4 linked regions of the Homo sapiens genome follow. The protein of the gene in region 2 purifies or fractionates together with the protein of the main gene of each other region. This does not show direct contact. Each region holds a gene or a part of one and is shown on either strand. Other genes may lie near its edges.

What was found.
Region 1: the proteins of NSMF (region 2) and RNF123 purify together in Homo sapiens (affinity purification with mass spectrometry; 2 studies listed by BioGRID and IntAct, with this or other methods). This does not show direct contact.
Region 3: the proteins of NSMF (region 2) and NDUFAF5 purify together in Homo sapiens (affinity purification with mass spectrometry; 2 studies listed by BioGRID and IntAct, with this or other methods). This does not show direct contact.
Region 4: the proteins of NSMF (region 2) and KCTD15 purify together in Homo sapiens (affinity purification with mass spectrometry; 2 studies listed by BioGRID and IntAct, with this or other methods). This does not show direct contact.

What each region holds. Positions count from the first base shown.
Region 1 is NC_000003.12:49,696,046-49,699,609, forward strand, and holds part of RNF123 (E3 ubiquitin-protein ligase RNF123), read left to right. Parts: intron 1-1,097; coding exon 1,098-1,177; intron 1,178-1,317; coding exon 1,318-1,412; intron 1,413-1,839; coding exon 1,840-1,894; intron 1,895-2,006; coding exon 2,007-2,092; intron 2,093-2,394; coding exon 2,395-2,481; intron 2,482-2,709; coding exon 2,710-2,777; intron 2,778-2,934; coding exon 2,935-3,060; intron 3,061-3,422; coding exon 3,423-3,537; intron 3,538-3,564. UniProt on the Homo sapiens protein: Catalytic subunit of the KPC complex that acts as E3 ubiquitin-protein ligase. Promotes the ubiquitination and proteasome-mediated degradation of CDKN1B which is the cyclin-dependent kinase inhibitor at the G0-G1 transition of the cell cycle.
Region 2 is NC_000009.12:137,449,335-137,452,898, reverse strand, and holds part of NSMF (NMDA receptor synaptonuclear signaling and neuronal migration factor), read left to right. Parts: intron 1-79; coding exon 80-163; intron 164-312; coding exon 313-346; intron 347-463; coding exon 464-534; intron 535-2,643; coding exon 2,644-2,723; intron 2,724-2,812; exon of another isoform or gene 2,813-2,873; coding exon 2,874-2,976; intron 2,977-3,224; coding exon 3,225-3,300; intron 3,301-3,407; coding exon 3,408-3,505; 3' UTR 3,506-3,564. UniProt on the Homo sapiens protein: Couples NMDA-sensitive glutamate receptor signaling to the nucleus and triggers long-lasting changes in the cytoarchitecture of dendrites and spine synapse processes. Part of the cAMP response element-binding protein (CREB) shut-off signaling pathway.
Region 3 is NC_000020.11:13,791,474-13,795,037, forward strand, and holds part of NDUFAF5 (arginine-hydroxylase NDUFAF5, mitochondrial), read left to right. Parts: intron 1-1,686; coding exon of another isoform or gene 1,687-1,706; coding exon 1,707-1,754; intron 1,755-3,364; coding exon 3,365-3,468; intron 3,469-3,564. UniProt on the Homo sapiens protein: Arginine hydroxylase that mediates hydroxylation of 'Arg-111' of NDUFS7 and is involved in the assembly of mitochondrial NADH:ubiquinone oxidoreductase complex (complex I, MT-ND1) at early stages. May also have methyltransferase activity.
Region 4 is NC_000019.10:33,803,325-33,806,888, forward strand, and holds part of KCTD15 (BTB/POZ domain-containing protein KCTD15), read left to right. Parts: intron 1-3,534; exon of another isoform or gene 3,535-3,538; coding exon 3,539-3,564. UniProt on the Homo sapiens protein: During embryonic development, it is involved in neural crest formation. Inhibits AP2 transcriptional activity by interaction with its activation domain.

The sequences.
Region 1 (3,564 bases), on a different chromosome or scaffold from region 2:
AACATGTCCCATTCAACACAGACTCCCCTGGCTGGGTGGTGGCGAGACTGGAATCTGCCCCAAAGGAACCACAGGCCTAGGGGCAAGGGTTGGACTAGGTGGCCTTGGTACTGACCACTTTGGGAACCAGCATTTCTCCCAGCCTTCTTCTTCCAGACATCATCAGCACAGCCACCTTTGAGAGCGGACAGGTTATGTGCTATGCAGACAGCACTTGTTATTCCCTGGGCTCTTCACAGCATCTCTAACATAAGTCACTATTCTGTTTTTACAGATGAAGGAATTAAGACTTAGAGAGGGCTACTTTTTTTTTTTTTTTTTGAGACAGAGTCTTGCTCTGTCACCCAGACTAGAGTGCAGTGGCACGATCATGGCTCACTGCAACCTCCGCCTCCCAGGTTCAAGCAATTCTCCTGCCTCCGCCTCCCAAGTAGCTGGTATTACAGGCACATGCCACCGCGCCCAGCATTTTTAGTAGAGTCGCAATTTCACCATGTTGGCCAGGCTGGTCTTGAACTACTGACCTCGTGATCTGCCCGCCTCAGCCTCCCAAAGTGCTGGGATTACAGGCATGAGCCACCGCACCTGGCCACATACTTTTTTTTTTTTTTTTTTTGAGACAGAGTCTTACTCTTGTTGCCCGGGCTGAAGTACAATGACACGATCTTGGCTTACTACAACCTCTGCCCCACCAAGGTTCAAGCTATTCTCCTGCCTCTGTCTCCCGAGTAGCTGGGATTATACGCATGCGCCACCACACTCAGCTAATTTTTGTATTTTTAGTAGGGATGGGGTTTCACCATGTGGCCAGGCTGGTCTCGAACTCCTGACCTCAGGTGATCTGCCCGCCTCGGCCTCCCAAAGTGCTGGGATTACAGGCATGGGCCACCACACCCGGCCTGGACTGGTTATACTTTTGAGTTTAGTGGAGAATTCGGCCTTCTGACCTCCTGCATGCCAGAGTCTAGGACTAGGCACAGCCCTTTTTCTGGAGTCTAGGCAGCCCCCCTGTGAGCTCAGGGGAAAGGATGGGATTTAGTGTCATCTGGCTGATTTCAAGGACTTGTGGACCCCTGGCAGCCTCTCACTCTCCCCAGGAAACCCCTGAACTTCCAGAACCTGCCAGAACATTTGGACCAGTTGCTACAGGTGGACAATGAGGAGGAGGAAAGCCAGGGTATGTGGCCACCTCTGGAGTGGGGTTGGGAGGTGCAGAGCTGGGACGTAGCGGGCCTGGAGACGTCTGGTGAGCTCAGGACACCCTATGCATCCTGTCAAATGCTCCACCCTGCCTGACCCCACCTCTCCTCTTTTCAGGACAGGTTGAAGGGCGGCTTGGCCCATCCACTGTGGTCCTGGACCACACAGGCGGCTTTGAGGGGCTTCTCCTGGTGGATGATGACCTGCTGGGGGTGAGTGAGGGTGAGGTGTGGAGACCCAGGTCCAGCCCCTTCTGACATAGCCCCAGGCTCCTCCTGATGTGGCCCTAGTCTCTCTACTCATCTGATGGGGCTGCAGCCAAAACTTGTCCTGACGTGGCCCCAGACCATTGTGTTCTCAGTCCTCAAACTCTCCCACTAAAGCCCTGAAACAGTCTTGATGTGGACTCAGCCCCCAGCCCTTCCCAGCACAGCCCTGAGTCCCTCTCTCATCCTGCCTTGGCCCAGGATCCTTCCTGATACAAGCCTACCCGCTCCCACCGTCCTCAGGCACAGTGCAGTGTTGGCCGCCACAGGCAAATACCACCAGGGCTGGCTCAGTTGGGGATGGGGTCTTTTTCCCTTGGGGAGATGCTCTGTGTGCCTGGGAGCTAGCCCACCACCCCTCTTCTTCACCCAGGTGATTGGACACAGCAACTTTGGCACCATCCGCTCTACCACATGCGTGTACAAAGGTGAGACCTTACCCTGCTGTGGCCTAGGTAGTGAGGAGAAAGTTTAAGGGCCCAGGCATGAGGCAAGAGGCAGTCTTTGTCCACCTCGTGGCCCTAACTCAGCTCTTTCCAGGGAAATGGCTCTACGAGGTCCTCATCTCCTCCCAGGGGCTCATGCAGATCGGCTGGTGCACCATCAGCTGCCGCTTCAACCAGGAGGTACACGTTGGGGAGGGGACCCCTCCCTGGGCCCAGGGAGAGCTTCTCCTGCCACAGGCCTCATCAGGTCTCCAGATCCCCTCAGAACTGCCTAGGACCCTAACTAACCTGGACTGCCCTCTGGAGAAGAAACGTGTCCCACCCAATCCCAGGCACCCCAGCTCAGAGAATACCTCTTACTCTTTCCCTCAGATCATCTGTTCCCTTCTGTAGAGCCATATGCATCCAAGGCTGGTGATTGGTGGGCTCTGGCCCAGACCCTGCCTGCCTCACCAGGGACCTCATAGGCATTTCCTCCCTAGGAGGGGGTTGGAGATACACACAACTCCTATGCCTATGATGGCAACCGCGTGCGCAAGTGGAATGTGACCACAACGAATTATGGCAAGGTGAGAGCCAAGCCCCTGTGGGTCATCCGCCCCATGACTGTTACTACAGCTTATTTGGAGCCACTGGGCAGCCATAAGGGACTACAGGGCACCAGGGAAGGGTCAGGGACCCAGGTCCTTTGTCCTTGTGGCTAGTCTCCCTTGGGTGGTTCTGGAAACGCAGCTGGGGTTCAGAGTCAGCAGGCTGCTGGGCTTCTGTGCATCTGGTGAGGCCTCCTCTCATGGCAGGCGTGGGCAGCGGGGGACATCGTGAGCTGCCTGATTGACCTGGATGATGGCACTCTGTCCTTCTGCCTGTGAGTTTCCTATCTCTATGCACAGGCCTGGCCCCTGGGGCCTCCCCAGACTGCCCCCAGTTTCCTGGGCCCTGTAAGGGGCCAGACTGAGTTTGATAGCCTGAGGGTGGGCAGCCACATGCTTAGCACTGGCTCACAGACCCACCCTTCTCCCCAGGAACGGTGTATCACTGGGCACTGCCTTTGAGAACCTGTCCAGGGGCCTGGGTATGGCCTACTTCCCAGCCATCAGCCTCTCTTTCAAGGAGTCCGTGGCCTTCAACTTTGGCAGCCGTCCTCTGCGATATCATTTTGTGAAGATGGCTGTGGGCTGCTCAGAAGCTCTTGGGGAGGCTGGGATGAGGGGCTCCCTACCCCAGGGGTGCCATGGGCTGGTGGCAGGCCCTGGCTGCTGCAGAGTTAGTGGGGGGCCATGTAGAGTGTCGAAGAAAACTTTCCTCGCAGCAGCCTGGTTGGTTGGGTGCCCTTGTCTCCACTGAACAGATGAGGAATGTGAAGCATCCTCCCTAGGGAGAATAAGTGGGCAAGTTGTGATGCAAACCAGCCCTGCCCTAGAGCCCAGGCCCCGGGGTGGGGGGTGGGCAGTGGAGAGGGAGTAGGCATGTCTGAGCCACAGATAAGGCGTTGCTGGCTTAACTCTGGCACCTACCCAGTGGCAGGCTACCGGCCCCTGCAGGACCCACCGAGTGCTGACCTGGTGCGGGCACAGAGGTTGCTGGGCTGCTTCCGGGCAGTGCTGAGTGTGGAGCTGGACCCTGTGGTGAGCTGGGGTCTGGGCCAGGCGGGG
Region 2 (3,564 bases):
GGTAGCCTCATGGGGGCTCCCACAGCCCCTTGGCTTTTGGATGGGCCTGGGGCCCCTGAGCAGCTCTTTGTCTCCGCAGCTCATTTCCTCCAAGGTGCCCAAGGCTGAGTACATCCCCACTATCATCCGCCGGGATGACCCCTCCATCATCCCCATCCTCTACGTGAGTCCCGCCCCGGGCCTGCCCCCAACAGATGCCCTCTTGCGGCCCCACCCTGGGCCAGCGCCGGCACCCCAGGTCCCCAGGGTGCTGTGGCGCTGCTGGCTCTGACGCAGCCTTGATGTGGCCTTGTGGCCTGTGTCTGTCCCCAGGACCATGAGCACGCAACCTTCGAGGACATCCTTGGTATGTGCCTCATTGGCCTTCTCTCTGCTGGTTCCAGGCCTGGGAGGGGCAGACACAGGTGGGGGTGCCCCTGGGGCTGGGGTGGGGGCCGCAGCACTCACACCCGCTCTCCCACAGAGGAGATAGAGAGGAAGCTGAACGTCTACCACAAGGGAGCCAAGATCTGGAAAATGCTGATTTTCTGCCAGGTGGGGCTCAGTGCTCGTCTCCTGACCAGGAGAAGAATCGTGGTGGGGCAGGGGAAGACCAAGGGGAAGAAGTCAAGTTGGGGGAGACCAAGGGGAAGAGGTTGGGGTGGGGAGACCAAGGGGAAGAGGTGTTTGTGGGGGAGACCAAGGGGAAGAGGCGTGGGGGTGGAGACCAAGGGGAAGAGGTGTGGCTGGGGGAGACCAAGGGGAAGAGGCTGGGGTGGGAAGACCAAGGGGAAGAGGTGTTTGAGGGGGAGACCAAGGGGAAGAGGTGTGGCTGGGGGAGACCAAGGGGAAGAGGCTGGGGTTGGGGAAGACCAAGGAGAAGAGGCGTAGATGTTGAGGGGGAAAGATCAAGGAGAAGAGGCGTGTGGCGGGGGGAAACGAAGGGGAAGAGGCGTGTGGCTGGGGGAGACCAAGGGGAAGAGGTGTGGCTGGGGGAGACCAAGGGGAAGAGGCTGGGGTTGGGGAAGACCAAGGAGAAGAGGTGTAGACATTGAGGGGGAAAGATCAAGGAGAAGAGGCGTGTGGCGGGGGGGAAATGAAGGGGAAGGGGCGTGTGGCTGGGGGAGACCAAGGGGAAGAGGTGTTTGGGGGGTAGATCAAGGAGAAGAGACGTGGCGGGGGAAGACCAAGGGGAAGAGGCGTGTGGCGGGGGAGATCAAGGGGAAGAGACGTGGCGGGGGAGATCAAGGGGAAGAGACGTGGCGGGGGAGATCAAGGGGAAGAGACGAGGGGCAGGGGAAGATCAAGGGGAAGAGGCGTGTGGAGGGGGAGATCAAGGGGAAGAGGCATGGTGGGGAGATCAAGGGGAAGAGGCGTGTGGCCAAGGAAGACCAAGGGGAAGAGACGTGGCGGGGGAGACCAAGGGGAAGAGGCGTGTGGTGGGGAAGACCAAGGGGAAGAGGCGTGGAGGGCAGAACAAGGGGAAGAGGCGTGTGGCGCGGGAGATCAAGGGGAAGAGACGTGGCGGGGGAGATCAAGGGGAAGAGACGTGGCGGGGGAGATCAAGGGGAAGAGACGAGGGGCAGGGGAAGATCAAGGGGAAGAGGCGTGTGGAGGGGGAGATCAAGGGGAAGAGGCATGGTGGGGAGATCAAGGGGAAGAGGCGTGTGGCCAAGGAAGACCAAGGGGAAGAGACGTGGCGGGGGAGACCAAGGGGAAGAGGCGTGTGGTGGGGAAGACCAAGGGGAAGAGGCGTGGAGGGCAGAACAAGGGGAAGAGGCGTGTGGCGCGGGAGATCAAGGGGAAGAGACGTGTGGCAGGGGAAGATCAAGGGGAAGAGGCGTGTGGAGGGGGAGATCAAGGGGAAGAGACGTGGAGGGGAGATCAAGGGGAAGAGACGTGGTGGGGGAGATCAAGGGGAAGAGACGTGGCAGGGGAGATCAAGGGGAAGAGACGAGGGGCAGGGGAAGATCAAGGGGAAGAGGCGTGTGGAGGGGGAGATCAAGGGGAAGAGGCGTGGGGGGGAGATCAAGGGGAAGAGGTGTGGGGGGGAGATCAAAAGGAAGAGGCGTGGCGGGCAGGTCAAGGGGAAGAGGCATTGGGGGGAGATCAAGGAGAAGAGCGTGTGGTGGGGGAGATCAAGGGGAAGAGGCATTGGGGGGAATTAAGAGGAAGAGGCGAGGGGGGGAGATCAAGAGGAAGAGGCGGGGGAAGATCAAGGGGAAGAGGCGTGTGGTGGGGGAAATCAAAGGGAAGAGGCGTGTGGTGGGGGAGATCAAAGGGAAGAGGCGTGTGGTGGGGGAGATCAAAGGGAAGAGGCGTGTGGTGGGGGAGATCAAGGGGAAGAGGCGTGTGGTGGGGGAGATCAAAGGGAAGAGGTGTGTGGTGGGGGAGATCAAAGGGAAGAGGCGTGTGGTGGGGGAGATCAAAGGGAAGAGGCATGTGGTGGGGGAGATCAAGGGGAAGAGGCGTGGGGGGGAGATCAAAGGGAAGAGGCGTGTGGTGGGGGAGATCAAGGGAAAGACGTGTGGTGGGGGAGATCAAGGGGAAGAAGCGTGGCCGGGGGATGAAGACCAAAACTACCTCCCACGCATGTGCGTGGGTGCATGTGTGTCGGAGAGGGGGAGGAAGGAGGAGCAGATGCCTGACCACAGCTTCTTACAGGGAGGTCCTGGACACCTCTATCTCCTCAAGAACAAGGTGGCCACCTTTGCCAAAGTGGAGAAGGAAGAGGACATGATTCAGTGAGAAGCCGGGTGCCCTGGGCGCGGGGAGGGCTGGAGGCAGAGTCCAGGCCCTGGCATGTCCCTCCCCCACAGCCCCTCCTCCACGGTCCGCTCTGTGGAGTGGGGTGCCTGTCCCCTGCCACTGGGTGACCCACCCCTCTCCACCAGCTTCTGGAAGCGGCTGAGCCGCCTGATGAGCAAAGTGAACCCAGAGCCGAACGTCATCCACATCATGGGCTGCTACATTCTGGGGAACCCCAATGGAGAGAAGGTACAGTGACCCCCAAGCCCCACCCCAGACCTCTGGAAACCCCCGACGTGGACAGACAGGGCAGAGCCTTCCATGTTTCCTGGCATTTTTTTTCCTTCCCCCGGGCATTCCCCTAGAAATCCTTTATGCCTGAGCCCAGCCAGGTTTGGGGGGTCTGAAAAAAGAGGGTGGGCCCTGCTCCCCATCTCCTCCCCGCTCCTCCTTCCCCATCTCTCTGCCTCGGACTCATGGCACCCCGCTTCCTCCAGCTGTTCCAGAACCTCAGGACCCTCATGACTCCTTATAGGGTCACCTTCGAGTCACCCCTGGAGCTCTCAGCCCAAGGTGAGTTACCCAGGCTGGGCCGAAGCTCTGCAGCCACTGCGGGGCCACGGTGGGGTGGGATCCCCAGGGCCGGCCAGGCCTGAGCCTCCTGCCCCCGCTCCGCCCAGGGAAGCAGATGATCGAGACGTACTTTGACTTCCGGTTGTATCGCCTGTGGAAGAGCCGCCAGCACTCGAAGCTGCTGGACTTTGACGACGTCCTGTGAGGGGCAGAGGCCTCCGCCCAGTCACCATCAGGCCACTCCCTCTGCACCGGGACCTGGGG
Region 3 (3,564 bases), on a different chromosome or scaffold from region 2:
TAGGTAAACTCTCTGAGGCAAGAATATAGAAAAGAACCTTCTGCAATTGTACTTAGGGTTGGGAGAAAGAGGAAGAGCCAATAAAGATGCCAGGAATAGTAAGATGGAAAGTGTCTTAGTAAGGTATCTTTTGATTGTTGAAAGCAAAAATGTGCTGAAGCCAGTTTAAACACAGAGACATTTGTTACAGAGAGGCTCTTATGTAACTCAGGGATCCAGAAATAGAGCCAGGCCTCACAAGAGATGGGAACTTTGAAACACCATAACAATGTTCCTCCTGTTCGCATGCACTCTGGTACTACATGAATGCTGTCTGGTTGCCTTCATTCTTTTTACTCCCTGTAGTCTATCCATAGTAGTGTTCATCAGTGTGTGTGGCCCCATATGAATATGCTACACCCAAGGGTAGCTGAAGCTAGCTTAGGCCAGCCTGTGAGAGCCAATTGTTAGCATCTCTTCCCAACCTCTGTTCTGTGACATCATATTGATAGCTTGACATCAGCCCTGGTGGGAATATTTATACCATGGAAGTTGGCAAATGCTACAAAGCAGTCCCCAACCAAGAGCCAGCACACCACTGCCTATACCCTGAAGTCTAAATGTTCTTCCAACTCCAGGGACCTCTGCTATTATCTCGAAGTCTCTTAGTTCAAATTTTCAAGTGAGAGACAGGGATAGATAATCCTGTCCATCTAATTCTTCACCCCTCACAGGAGTGTGCTGGAGCTGGCTCATGAGAGCTATTGAGCACTCTTCCCAGCTCCATATTTAGCAACATCATGTTGGTAGCATGAAATCTTTCCAAGTTTCAGACAGGGAAGTGGGTGTGGGTAAAGTAAAAAAGGATTGGCTTCTCTAATAGAGAAGGGCAGCCAGAGTAGAAGCTTCTGAAGAAGCTTCTAGTAGGCTGTTGACAATGCTGTGCTTCAAAGAGGTCAGGTGAAGCAGGACTGAGAGCAGTGAGCACAGACTGCAGATAGTGTTAGCAGAGCAGTGAAAGCAAAGAGATACCCAGAATGGGGAGAAAGAATCTAGGAAGAAGTAGAGTTGTGGATTATAAACCAAACAACCAGAAGGTACCTAGAGGGAGGAGATTTTTTGTAATTGGAAAGCTTGTGCCTGTTGTAAGGTGGAGGAAGGAGACACAGAAGACACAGACTAAAGATTGATAGAGATGGAGATGGAGAGAGCAGGATCCCGGAGAAAAGAGGGCTGAGGGGGAAAGAAAGTGTTTTTCTGGTGCAGAAATAGCACAGTCTCCTTTCCTTTTGGAAGGGAGAGAGGGTAGGCGAAACAGGGAAAATGGAACCCTAAGCCTCTACCTGTAAGTCTTTCTTTACTCTGTAAACTCTTTGGATGAACAACTAAAAGGCGGGAAACTCATAGCAGGTCCTTTGTGACACAGGAGTGGGGAAATAGCTCTTAGCATGTTATGCCATGGAAAAGTTAACACGGAAGCCCTCACCCAGTGTAGTAAATTCGGAATGTTGAATACGCATACTCATGTTCTCTATTTTATTACATATAGTTAAATATAGCAAAGGATATGTGTTATTAAAAGTATTTGTGTACCATACTGGTTTTATGCAGAAATATACCTTTACAAAGCTGAAAATTAAAATGTAATTAACACTTTTACCTTTAGAAATGTCAGCAATTGTTTGTGACTGGATTTGTTTGTTTCAGCTTCAGTTATTCCATTGCAGGAAACTATTGGAAAGTTTTTCCAAGCTGACATTGCAGAAAATGCTTTGGTAGGTAGCTTTTTAATACTGTTGGTTTCTAATCTCGTGATGTGTTTTCTCATATTTTATTTCTTTATTTTTATTTCCTTCAAACTAGCTTTCTTTTCTGACACATGAAAAGGAACTCATACAGGAAATATCAAGAACAAAGGAAAAATCACCCCTATCACCCCTAGTCCTACCATTCAGAGGCAACCATTGGTGGCACTTGGTCTCCACATTTGCAGACATATAACTGTCCCCGCCCCCCCAACACACAACTGTGTATGAACATTACTATGCTAATATTCCATGTTATTTACGGCACATCATTTTTTTTGTCAGTGAATTTATACTTATGTGTGTCATATATCATCTTTTTAAATGGCTACATGGTATTCTAATATATGAATACTCCATAGTTTATTTAGCTAAACTTTCTATTGAAGGGCAGTTACGTTTCTAGTTTCTCAATAACCAACACTGCAGTGAAAATCCTTATGTGAAGCCACATTGTATGTTTGATTTATTTTTTTCCGTGGGTATAAATTCCTGGTAGCGGAATTTATGGATTCATTTTGATGTTCATTTAAAAATTTTTTGACATACATCTTCAGACTGCCCTTAGAAAGACTGAACAATGACAAAGGTACTTTTTACTACTTTGCTTTGGCAACACTGGGCCAGCCTTTTCGTCTGGGTCAGTCTGACAGCTGCTGATATCTTTTGACTATTGGTATTTCTTGTGAATTTTGTAAATAATTTTGTGATATGCCTGCACCTTGTCCTCTTTAGCTATCTTGTGTTTTTATTCTAGGTGATTTGTAAGAGCTTGGTTTTTAGGGATATTAATCCTTCATTGTATATGTTGTAAATATTTTCCTCAGTTGTTTACATTGTTTATTGATTTCTATTAATAGAAGTTTTTAATTAGTTTATCATCAAATATATCAGTCTTTTCCTTTACAGTTTCTGGCTTTTGAATTATGTTTACCTAGGCTTTTTCATCTAAGGGTAAAATGTCCAGTCCACCCATATTTTCATCTAGTACTTCGGTTGTTTCACTAAAACTTTCAGCCTTCTTTTTTCTTTTTTTTTTTCTGAGACAGTCTTGCACTGTTGTCCAGGCTGGAGTGCAGTGGTGCGATCTCAGCTCACTGCAACCTCCGCCTCCCGGGTTCAAGCGATACTCCTGCCTCAGCCTCCCGAGTAGCTGAGATTACAGGTGCGTGCCACCACGTCCAGCTAATTTTTGTATTTTTAGTAGAGACGTGGTTTCACCATGTTGGCCAGGCTGGTCTCGAACTCCTGACTTTCAGTGACTGCCCACCTTGGCATCCCAAAGTGCAGGGATTATAGGCGTGAGCCACCACGCCCAGCCAAACTAGCTTTCTGAGATTTGTTTTGGTGTGAGGTTGGTATCCTGTTTATGTTGTTTCAACTAGTTAGCCATTTTTTCTGGCTGATGTTAAGTCATTTAAGAAATGCTTTTTGGGTGCCTTCTCTGTGCCACCTTTGGGAAGGGGGGTAGAAACTGCCAAGTAAATATAACATTGACTTCAATTTAACAAACAGTGATTGTGTTAGTAATTGAGATTCTACATAAATGTGATTTTGATCTTTCGTTTTCTTAACATTAGAAAAATTCCTCAGAAACAGAAATACCTACTGTCAGCGTTTTAGCTGATGAAGAATTCCTTCCCTTCAAAGAAAATACATTTGACCTGGTGGTTAGCAGTTTAAGGTTGGTAATCCACTTTTTAAAAACCATATGTTATAAACAGATCATTCTTGCCATAAAGTTTTGCTATGAGGCCAGGAGCGGTGGCTCACGCCTGTA
Region 4 (3,564 bases), on a different chromosome or scaffold from region 2:
GTAGTGGATTATTATAATATAAGCAGTTTTCTACCAATTCTGGAAAAAATCAATCTCACCTAGTGTCACTGATCTAGGAGACACCTGGAGATGGAGGACTAAGAGTGCTGTGGTCCTCAGGGGGTTTCTGGATGGTGAAGATGACCTGCCCTAGGCAGCATTGTAAAAGCTGGGACCTCTACCCTCGGCTCCCCTGAGAACTCTGCCTGAGCCTCTGGGTCTCGGCGGTTGGGGTGGCCTGGGTGCTGGAGAGTCTCGTGCTGGGTGACTCCTCTGGTCTGCCTAGGAGCAGTCACTGGTCCTCACCCGAGACAGCCAAGCACAGCCGGGGCTGGGAGTGGATTCCCTGGGCCGGCCCCCTTGCTGGTGTCCTGCCTGCTTGACCCCCGTTAGCTGCCGCCATCACAGCCACACTCTGACATCCATCCTGACTATGGGAAGCATCAAATGAAGATGGCCAGGAGCTTCAGAACTCTTAAAACCTGGTGCCTGAAACAGCCAGGAAATTGGAGCCAGAGCTTAAAAAAAAAAAGGAAATAAACGAGAAGACGAAGGCCATCCTGATGCTCCCCCTTGTGCACACAGGGCAGGTGGTTGGAGGCATCTTTTCTGCCCCTGAGGGTCCCACCTGCTGCAGCGTGAACTGGCCACCTCATTCCATGGAGGACTTCGGAAGCCGGCCCCTCAAACCCTGCATCCTCTCTCAGAGGGTGGCCTGGGCCATTTTCCACAGGGAACGTGGAGCCCCTGACAGAGCTGGGAACTCATACCTGCAGGGCTGAGAATGGCTGAGGGCTCCTCCATGGTGATTATCCTCACCTTTCCTCAACCTGCTCACGTCCTTGGCAGCCTCAGACGCTGAGGGCATGAAAGGCCTCTGTCCTGGGAGAGGCGGTACAGCTGCCGCTTGATCCAGGAGCCTATACTGAACCATGGAAAGATCTAGAATCAGCCTGTCCTGAAATAAGGCAGATGGAAAACCTTCTAAACTTGGACCGATGAGACAACCTAGAACCCATCCAGCCCTGGAATGTGGGTGCATCAGGAGTCTTCTAGACCAACAGGACCAGCTAGAGCCTCAGCCAGACCTGACGTCAGAAGGGTTGGGAACTCAGCCAGGCCTAGAATGCTGCCTGCTTACATGGACTTTGGAGCTCCACTGGGAAGGGTGGGGAGAGTTCCCAGGAGGCTGAGGGTTTGGATCTGCTGACTCACCTTGGATGTAGCTCTTACTTCCCACCGGTGCCACACATGGACCTCAGCCACCTGCCAACCACTGCCCATGGTATCTGGCAGCCTGGGACAGACCCATCTGTCTCCAGGAATGCTGGGTGGCCCTCACTCTGACATCTGGATGCCCACGCTCTACTAGGCCAGGTCCTAGGGCCTTTGTAACTGGAGCCAGCCGTGGAACCCACAGCCTTTCCAGCAGGGGCTGTGACCTGCAGTGCCATTGTCACCAGGCCTAGGGGGTTGACAGGGCTCATCGGCCTTTGGAGCTCTGAGATGAGTTGTATCTGGGTGGCTGCAGCTCTGGGTCCACAGACTCGGGCTCACAGCAGACTCTGACCTCCCCATGCCCATCCACGAGACAGCCTTGCCCTTTTCTTTCTTTCTTTTAAGCGACAGCGTTTGTCTTTCTTGGCCAGGCTGGAGTACGTGGTGTGATCTCGGCTCATTGCAACCTCAAACGCATGGACTCAAGTGATCCTCCCACCTCAGCCTCCCAAGTGGACTACAAGTGCATGCCACCATACCCAGCTAATTTTTAAATTTTTTGTAGAGATGGGGTCTTGCTGCGTTGCCTAGGCTGGTCTCGAACCCCTGGCCTCAAGCAGTCCTCCACCTTAGCTTCCCAAAGTGCTGGGATTACAGGTGTGAGCCACGGTGCCCAGCTAAACCGTGCCCTTTATACTACCCTGCTAGGAGAGAAACCTGCACCGTGTTCCCAGAGACTCCATACCCGGGCAGACCATCATGGCTGATGCATTGAGTGTGCTGGGCCATCAGAGCATAGGATGGTGTGGACGGGAGGCCCTGAGGGCAGACTTGGGGGCTCTGACTCCCTCAGCTCCTGCCCAGCTAGTGTGTCCTGGGTGCAAGTGGCAGTGGGGCAGGGCCCTGGAGACGGCTGACTTGGAGTGGACAGAGGAGTGGGCTGCTGTTAGAACAGGGGGCATCCCTGCAGGGGTCCCTGCTGGTGCAGGCAGAGAGTGAGGGGCTTAGGCTCCAGATTGTGTGCAGGCCGGGCTGGGAAGCCTAGGTCCCAAGTTGGAGCTACTGTTCTCCCAGCTGTGCAGAGAAGCTGCCACCTTGGCAGGGTCCAGCTGGGCAGGAGTGTGGCCCTGCCTGCTGAAGGATGTGGTGGTGCTGCCCTTGGGGAAATGATGCCAACTTCCCTCCTGTTCCCAAACCAAGCCCTTGGCTACTCCCACCCCTCTTTAGGGTTCCTAGTTATCCCTAGCTCGACCTGGGGTCTGCCAGGGCAGTTGCCAAACCAGAGCTGGCCACCCTGGGCACTGGGGAGGTGGTATCAGCCCTGGCTCTGAGGCCTGGCTCCTTCTCCCCGGAGTGGACAGGGACAGGCATCAGGGGCTCCCCAAGACCCTTCTCCTGGTCTTGCATTTGTTAGAACCATTGCCCTTCAGAGGACAGGGTACCGGCACCTGCCTTCTCTCCAGTCCCCATCCGCCACCACTAGGTGTGGTGTGCATACGCTCTGGCATGTGTGCACATATGTATGCACTGTGGTGCATGTGTGTGCATGGTTTCTGTGTGCGTGTGTGTATGCCTGTGTTGTGGCATGTGTGCAAGGGCCCTGTTGCATGTGTGTGCTGTGGCACACTTGCCATCCCTCCTGTCTGCCTCTGTTTCTCCCTGTGGGCTCCCTGAGTGAGCGGCAGTAGGGGATTTGTGCCGTCATGTCTCTGGGTGCCTGGTGTTGACAGGTGTGTGTCCTTTCCTGGATGTGTCTGGATCTGCATGATATGTGTGTGTTGGGAAGGAAGGGACCATGTGACCCTGTGCCTGTTGCACAGGCCTGTGTGTCTCACACTCGTTTACATGGGTTGGGTGGGGAGGATGTATGTCCTGGCTCGTTTACTGGGTGTGTGGCTGTTGGCCGGGGTGTTGGATGGTTCATGTGCATTTTCTGGGTGGGTCTATCTGGCAAGGGTGTGTGCACCAGGCCTGTGACCAGCTGGTTTGTGTGTAGGGGGTAAGGTGCCTGTGTCTTGCTATACCTTTCCAGGCCTGTAACATAACGTGTGTTGGCAGGCTGGTGTGTACAGCTGGGTGTGTCCCTCTCTGGCTGTGACTTGCGGGTGTAGGCAGGATGTGTGGTGTGTCCTGTTAACTGTAGCCTGGCTGCCCCAGGTGTGTGCAGATGTTGTCAGGCCTGGAACAGTTCCAGAGTCACCCATGTCAGGTCCCTCGCCCCTCCAGCCGTGTGGGCCCTCAGGAGTGGGGGCGGGGTGTGGGAAGACAGGCAGACTTGTCCCCATCCCTTCAGACATCCCACCTCGCCTGTCTCTCCCAGGATAAGCCGCCTCTTCAATGGCACTG